3 separate regions of the Homo sapiens genome follow, and regions 2 and 3 are each linked to region 1. The links come from fine-mapping of genetic effects on gene expression. A gene starts in region 1. Each other region holds a variant in brackets. All regions are shown on one strand. Distances are between the middles of the regions.

Region 1 (2,668 bases):
ACCCCCTCCCAGGACCCTCTTCCACTTCCTGTGTGCCCTCCGTGGAAACATGGGGCGAGGATGCCGCACACCGGCCAGGAGGGGTGTGCCCAGCTGACCCTCCCAGCTGCACCTGTGGCCTGTGGCCGGACCCTGACCCCAGTGTGGTTTGCAGGTAGAGCTGTAACAGGCAGAAGGTGGCGTCCCAGGAGACGGCCCCAGCAATGGGGGTGGGTATTGGGCAGCTGCCCTGGTTCCAGCCACAAGGGGTCTCTCAGAAACAAGCCTTGGAGCCTGGGAGGACCTCTGGTGTCACTGTGTCCCCCACAAACAGGGTCCAAGGCCAAAACTCCACCTGGAAGCCCCTGAGCCCCGTCTGCCTCCTGCTGACAGTGCCCTGACATTTGGCTGCTGTGCCCACCTGGGTGGTTTGGCCAACTGCACGGGGAGGGGGTGCCTTCAGTCCCTGGGAAGTGGCTGGGTGTGATGGGGCCGGGATAGAGAACTCTGGGGGACCCCAGGCCTGGCTGCACCCCTGTCCTCTCTAGTAGATGCGTTCCTGGCTCTCCCCTCTACTGCCCCTGAGCATCTTCAGAATAAACAGCACCGGCCGCCCACCCCGGCTTCCCTGGGGCAGCCCTGTCTCCCTGACCCAAGGCCCGGCCACACTGAGGGCTCCTCTGAAGTTCTCCCCTCCTCAGGCCTGGGCCACACCTCCCCAACCGGACCACCCTCTGCTCAGCAGTCCAGGCTCCAAAACCCTGGAGAGGAGGGGGCAGGGCAGAGCTCAAGATCACCCACTCACGGCCAAAAGCCACCTGATCACTTGACTCAAAGCCACATGTCATTCCCCACCCTGCACAGCCCCCCGACCCCAGATCCGCAGGAAAACACTTTTTGTTTTCCAGATAATTGCACCAAATAGATTGGGGGCGGTGGCAGTAATTCGCTTACACTTTTTACAAATGCGTTCTTCCCAATTTCCTCAAATCAAGTTATTTACACTTTATCTATTTCCCAACTTCCTTCTGTCCCAAAAGAAAAGGGGGGTTTCGCCGACCTAGTAGAACCTTGCTTTAAGTCAAACTACCCCAAAGCCAAAGTCAAGGCTGCCCCGCCGGGCTGAGGGCGGCGTCTACACGGCCCTGAGTCTCTGCGGAGCCCCGGAGCCCCGGTGCCAGGCGATGCAGCAGCCCTCGGGGGTGAGGGCGGGCTCGGCCTCCACGTCCGCCTCCCGCCGCCCCGAGCCGGGGCGTGCGGGCGCGGGCTGGGTCTGGAGCGGGCCCGGGCGTCTTACCGGCGGACGAGCGGCCGGCCCCGCGCGGCTCTCCCCGGGGCCCCGGGGCAGCTCGTTCCCGGGCGGCGGCTCCCTGCGGGCGCGGCTCCTCGAGGGCGCCCCAGGCTCCGGGGACCCCAGGCCCGCGGCGGCGGCGGCCAGCAGGCCCGCGTAGACGAGCAGCAGGCGGGCTCCGGCGGGGCGGCGGGCCGGGGCCATGCGGGCGGCGGTTCCCTCGCGGCTCCGAGCGCGGCGTCTCGGACGCCCCGGGCTCCTCGCCTTATAACGCGCTTGAATCCCCCGCCTCGCCCGAGACCGCGCGCCCGCCCGCGCCCCCTCCCGGCTCCCGTGCGCGCTGCATGGGGATGGGGGGAGTGTCCGGGCGGGGGAGGGGGAGTGGGGGAGGGGGCACGGGGAGCGGGGCAGGGCAGGGAGAGCGAGGGGTGTTCCCCTGCTGGGCGCGTCCCCCCTGCAACTCCTGGTTCTGGGATCCCTCCTTCGCGCTGTCCAGCGCTTCTGCTTCCTGGGGAGCGAGGCGCCCCTTCTCCCAGCCCTGGACCCTCGGCCCTCGCGACCCCATTTTCTTTGCGGGGAGCCAGGCGCTGCCTCCTCCCAGACGGCTCGAGGCATCCTTTCTCCCCGCTCTGTCCCCCACGTCCTCTGCAGGGACCCCCGAGGTACCCCCTCCCCATTCTCCTGGCTGCGCCCCGCAAGGCCCAGGCCTCTATGACACAGGTGGAGCAAATCTGAGCCGGGAGACCCTCAGGGCCCCTTCTCAGCGCCCCTTTCCCAGGCGGGAACTCCCCTTTCCAGGCCGCCCTCCGTCCATGGCTGGCGTGCTCTGAGCGCAGGGATTCACTGTTCTTCCCCACCTGTCGCACCTGCCGGGACCCAGAAGACGCAGGGAGCCAAGAAACAACTCAGGACAGCCGCCCTGCCCTGGTGGGGCTGAGCGGGGCCTGGGCTGGGAGAACTGACCCCTATCGTGCCCTAGCGGGGGTGTGGGGGCAGACCAGACCGGAAGCCAGGCTGCCCACCGCCCACCGGAATCAGTGCCCCCAGAGGTGGACCAGACCCTGCAGGCCTCGGAGAAGGTGGCAGAGAGGCCTCTGGGCGGCCCTACCAGGAAAGAGCCAGCCCCAGCCCCACCCTACCCCTGGCTTTGTTATATCGCATGCCCTTTTGACTATCTGCCCCACCACTGGACGCTAAGCCGAGGAGGGTCGCACACTTGGCTCGCTTGCCCCACCCCCGAGGCACCTGCCCCTGGTGGGTACACAGTGCTTTTTGTTAAAGAACGGGAGAAGGCTCCGCTGGAAAAGTACCTTACACTCACACCGAGGGCTGCTGTTCCCGGGGAACTCTTTTGAGAAGAGCCCGCTGGGGAAAGGAGGCCTTACCCTGTCCTGGTTC
Region 2 (2,668 bases), 22 kb before region 1:
AGAACACCTGGAGGCACTGGTGTGGACGGCCTACCTGGCACTCGGCCAGCATGCACAACGCTTGCCCTCCTCTTTGCCTTCCATAGGCTCATGGACATGTCTCTGGCCTTCTAGACTCCAGGCCAAAAGGGACCTTGATACTTGTTGAGTGCTTCCTTTCATGTCACAAATGTGACAACAGCCAGAGTGAGCACTTGTCTGTAGTTATTCAGCAGAGTTTGTACCAGAGTTGATATCAAAACCAGGGGCGACTCTCTCCCTAACTGTTGTGTCTTTGACACTTCTTTGCTGCTTGATTCTCTGAACTTACGTTTATCAGCAGGAGGCTGAATGTGAAACTCCATTGTTAACTGTTTTCTTCAAACTCCATTGTTAACTGTTTTTTTCAACTGGTACCTTTAGATGCTGCGCCCACTGAATTTCATGACTATTACAATCTCCATCTTCCCAGGCAATCTTGTGTCGTTATAATGAGGAGAGTCAAAAACATGCAGCCTTAAGCCTCAGCAAAGAGCATAATCCAACTCAGTATGAAGAGCGGATGAGGATACAGAAGGCTGGAGGAAACGTCAGGTAACCAAGGGACTGAGAGGAGCTCATGGGAAGGAGGGCTGTTAGCTGTAGAAGGGTCCCGAGACCTTCAAGGAGTAGAACTTCCCCTGTTACGTAGTCTTCAGTGTGACGAGGCTCTGTCTGAGATCTAACACTGGTGACATAGGTGGATGACAGTTGTAGATTTCACATGTGTCCACGTGGAAGGAAACTTGCCTCCCTACATTTGCAAAAGGACAAATTCATATTTACCATTCACAGTGTTTTCTCTGTGCCTAGGAAGTTTCTTAAATACTGTCACTTTTCGTGGTGGCGGGCGCCTGTAGTCCCAGCTACTCGGGAGGCTGAGGCAGGAGAATGGCGTGAACCTGGGAGGCGGAGCTTGCAGTGAGCCAAGATCGCACCACTGCACTCCAGCCTGGGCAACAGAGCGAGACTCCATCTCAAAAAAAAAAAAAAACCAAAAAAAAAACCTGTCACTTTTCACATTGAATAAGTTACAGTTTTAGGTGAATTCTCCAGAGAGAAAATCTGAAGTAGTTAAGACGGGTTAAGTAATGTCTTTGGACTTCTTGGGAACAACTGGCACAGAGGACCATGTCTTACTTGGCTCTGTCTTTTGCAGTTTCATTTCACTCTCTCTTTAAATCTTTGAAAACCATATGTCTGCTCTGGTTTTATTATCTGCTTCTATCCAAGGCAGCTAAAGGAGGGCATAAGTCTTTTCTTTAGAATTCCACTTCAAGGACATTGCATTATGAATTAGACCAGGAGTATTTTCTGGTTTGTTGTACAGTTTGACTATTAAAATTTTATTTTCTGCCAGAGATAAGAGAGATGTCATCTCTTAGTATAAGACTGCACTTACCTATCCTTTGAAGTGTAGTTTCTCTTCTGTTGTTCATTTGGGGAAGCCTTTTTTATTGCTCCAGGCTGAATCTAGTCAGTGGTACAGGGAGGTTTCTGGAGAGTAGTTGGAACCCTTAGCGTTTGTTCAAAAAGCTCTTGGATTAGTAAGAAGCAGTTTCATTCACGGTCGCTGCAGTTTACATGAGCAGTGATGGGATTATAGGCCTGGTTTCAGGCCTCAAGCAGTGCTGTT[G/T]GCCCAGTTTTTGCCACCGTAACTACTGTCCTGGTAACTACTGTGGACAGTCATGCCTGAGAATGTGACTCTAACATGAGCGTAAGCATCACCTCTTCTCCCCTTTCTTGTAAGTTTTACATTCATTCTGCTTTTGCCTGAACTCCTTGAAAATAATTGGATACTGACAGTCCGATGGCTGAAAGTAAGGCCAGTTGTGTTGCAGTTGCTTCCTATATCCCAGTCCTTACCTGATTCAGAGAAGTGTTTACATGCCTTAGAGAAATCATTTGACAGTGTGGGTTTTGGGTGACTCCTTCATCTCAGAGAAGGGCTGAGGCTAAGAGACCAGCAGCGTGGGTCGCTGCCCCTGAGCAGCAGAGCCCTGTCGTGGTCTGTTCTCCTGCCTGAGGCCAGGGCTGGCTGCCCCACTCTCAGCTTTTATCATTAAATTTTTCAGACATACAGAAGAAACTTGACAATAGTAAAACATTTCCAAATCTACTAGCAGTGAACATTGTGTCATGTTTAGTCTGTATAGATGTGTGTCAGGCTGAGCTGTTTAAAAGTTGCAGATATGATGACATAACAGCCTAAATACTTAAGCATGCATCTCCTGAAGATAAGGACGTTCTTGACATAATTAGTGAGAATTTTCACACCTAAGACAATAATATTTCCTTAGGTTAAGTTATCTAATACCCTGTCTATATTTTTATTTCCCGAGTTATCCCCAAAGTATCTTTGTTTCAAACCAGGGTCTAGTCAGCATCCATGTCTGCCGTGGACTTGGCATTTCTTTTTCTTTTTCTTTTTCTTTCTTTCTTTTTTTTTTTTGAGAGAGAGAATCTTGATCTGTTGCCTGGAGTGCAGTGGCACGATCACAGCTCACCGCAGCCTTGACCTCTGAGGTTGAAGCGATCCTCCAGCCTCAGCCTCCCAAGTAGCTGGGACCACAGGCATGTGCCACTGTGCCTGGCTATTTTTTTATTTTTTGGTAGAGACAGGGTCTCTGTCTGTGTTTTCCAGGCTGAG
Region 3 (2,668 bases), 52 kb before region 1:
CGAGACCACGGTGAAACCCTGTCTCTACTAAAAATACAAAAAATTAGCTGGGCGCGGTGGCGGGTGCCTGTAGTCCCAGCTATTTGGGAGGCTGAGGCAGGAGAATGTTGTGAACCCAGGAGGCGGAGCTCGCAGTGAGCCGAGATCGCGCCACTGCACTCCAGCCTGGCGACAGAGTGAGACTCTGTCAAAAAAAAAAAAAAAAAAAAGGAAAGGAAAGAAAGAAAGGAAGGAAGAAAGACTTCAAATAAAGAACCTAGTGATGCATCTTAAAGAAAAGCAAGAGCAAACAAAAGCCAAAGTTAGTACAAGAAAGGAAACAATAAAGATCAGAACAGGAAGAAATGAAATTGGAATGAAGAAGACAATACAAAAGATCAATGAGGTAAAAAGTTGGTTTTTTGAGGCTGGGTGCAGTGGCTCACACCTATAATCCCAGCATTTTGGGAGGCTGAGACAGGTGGATCACTTGAGGTCAGGAGTTTGAGACCAGCCTCGCCAACATGGCAAAAAATCCCATCTCTACTAAAAATACAAAAATTAGCTGGGCATGGTGGCGGGCACCTGTAATTCCAGGTACTCAGGAGGCTGAGGCAAGAGAATCATTTGAACTCGGGAGGCATAGGTTGCAGTGAGCTGAGATCACGCCACTGCACTCTAGCCTGGGCAACAGAGTGAGACTCTGTCTCAAAAAAAAAAAAAAAAAGAAAGAAAAAAAAGAAAAAGTTAAATTACACAAGAGCCCCAGGAAAATCCTGCCCTCTTCTTATCACGCCTCACTGAAGCTATGCTAAAATATACCAATTTGGACCCAGAATCTAGAGAAGGTCAAACTTTTTCTACCTCCAATTTATTTCCCAGATATCCAGAAAAAAAATTACAAAAACTAGAGGGTCCCCAGACATCTCGGTGGGACCTCCTAAATGCAGCCTTCTGTGTCTTTAACAACAGAGATGAGGAACCAAAAATTCAAAAAGACAAGCATCTCCATTTAAAATACCAGATGCTCACCTCTGCTGTCCAAAAGTCAATCACACAAAAGCCTCCCGATAACCCAAAAGGAAACTCTGCCACCTTTTTGGGAGTCTGTTTCCGATGTGGCAACCCTGGACACTGGGCAAAGGCTTGTCCTAACCCCCAGCCCTCCACCAAGCCATGCTCAACTTGTGGTCTTTGGGGACACTGGAAAATGGACTGCCCCCAATGGGGACACCTTCCCCATTC[G/A]GTGTGGCTCATAATGAAGTCCCCCAGCCATCCACAGGAGGAAATCTCTTCACTGCTGGTGCTGACAGCAGAGGACTGAAGGTACCCAGGATTCTTTGCCCCCATGTCTAGTGAGTCCACAGAACCCAGAGGGTAATTGGGACTGTATCTGGTAAGATTATTTCCTTTCTTTTGGATACTGGGGCTAGCCTATTGGTATTAACTGACTATCAAGGCCCGTTAGAACGTTCATCCATTTCTGTGTTGGTATGAAGGGCATACAAGAAACCCCATATAAAACACCGCCTCTATACTGCTCATTTCAGGGAGTCATCCTCACTCACTCTATTTTGGTCATTCCTCACTGTCCCACTCCCTTATTAGGAAGGGATATTCTACACAAACAGGGGGAATCATTCATTTATCGGCCCTACACCAAAGACACCCTTATTTATTATTATGTCAAGAACAGAAGCCCTCCTCAGACACTCCACATCAAACAGACTTAAATCTCAAATTTCTCAGCCATGTAAACCCCATCATATGGAACGCTGACTTCCCCATAATAGCTACCCACCATTCTCCAACCCAAATTTCATTGAAGAATCCTAAGCACTATATAGTGTTTCCAACATTGTCCCCTCAACCCTGATGGATTGCAGGGACTCAAGCCCATCATATCCTGATTTTGGGTGCCAGTATTTTAATCCCCACCCATTCTCCCCACAATACTCCTATTCTTCCAGTTAAAAAACCAGACAGCTCCTATAGACTGGTCCAGGATTTGTGACAAATCAACTCCGCTATTATTCCTGTTTGTCCCGTTGTCCCAAACCCCTACACCCTCCTATCACGAATTCCTCCCAACACTAGCCACTCCTCTGTATTAGACCTCAAAGATGCCTTTCTTACTATCCCTGTACATCCCTTCTCTCAAAACCTTTTTGCTTTCACTTGGGCTGATCCTGACACAGGCTACTCCCAACAACTCGCCTGGACTGTCCTCCCCCAGGGGTTTAGGGACAGCCCTCACTATTTCGGTCAGGCACTTCAATTAGACCTCTCCCAACTACCTCTACAACCCAGCATTTTGCTTCAATATGTGGATTTACTCTTTTGCACCCCCTCCCTAGAATACTGTATTCAACACATCACCAAGCTTTTACATTTTTTGGCTGAATGTGGGTACTGGGTATCCAAAAGAAAAGTTCAAAAATTTCATACCCAGGACTTATCATAACTCCAAATTCTGTCAGCACGAAAGCAAGGTGTTCAACAAATCCCATTTCCTAAAACAAAAAGGGACTTACTTTCCTTCTTCGGATTAGTGGGATATTTCCAAATATGGATAGCAAATTTTGCCATTGTTGCTATATCCCTTTATGAACACACAAAAGAAAATCTTGACCAACTCCTCACTCCCACCCCAGATCTTTATCATGCTTTCTCTCACCTAAAACGTGTG

The links. PIP is the estimated chance that this variant, and not a neighbour inherited with it, causes the effect.
Region 2: its variant is the best candidate, but not a certain one, in a credible set for the expression of ERFE in whole blood (TOPMed, PIP 0.60).
Region 3: its variant is fine-mapped to the expression of ERFE in whole blood (TOPMed, PIP 0.93).

What each region holds. Positions count from the first base shown.
Region 1 is chr2:238,157,814-238,160,481 of GRCh38, reverse strand. ERFE (erythroferrone) reads right to left here and starts at 1,512. Exons shown (of 8, transcript NM_001291832.2): 1 at 1,277-1,512. The coding sequence starts at 1,474. RefSeq lists a silencer at 1,465-1,534.
Region 2 is chr2:238,179,970-238,182,637 of GRCh38, reverse strand. It overlaps ILKAP (ILK associated serine/threonine phosphatase), which reads left to right. Exons shown (of 12, transcript NM_030768.3): 9 at 452-573. Among named protein-coding and RNA genes, the nearest start is that of ERFE, 22 kb to the right of the region's middle. The variant G/T (reference allele first, on the strand shown) is at 1,655.
Region 3 is chr2:238,209,734-238,212,401 of GRCh38, reverse strand. No RefSeq gene overlaps it. Among named protein-coding and RNA genes, the nearest start is that of ILKAP, 7.4 kb to the right of the region's middle. The variant G/A (reference allele first, on the strand shown) is at 1,225.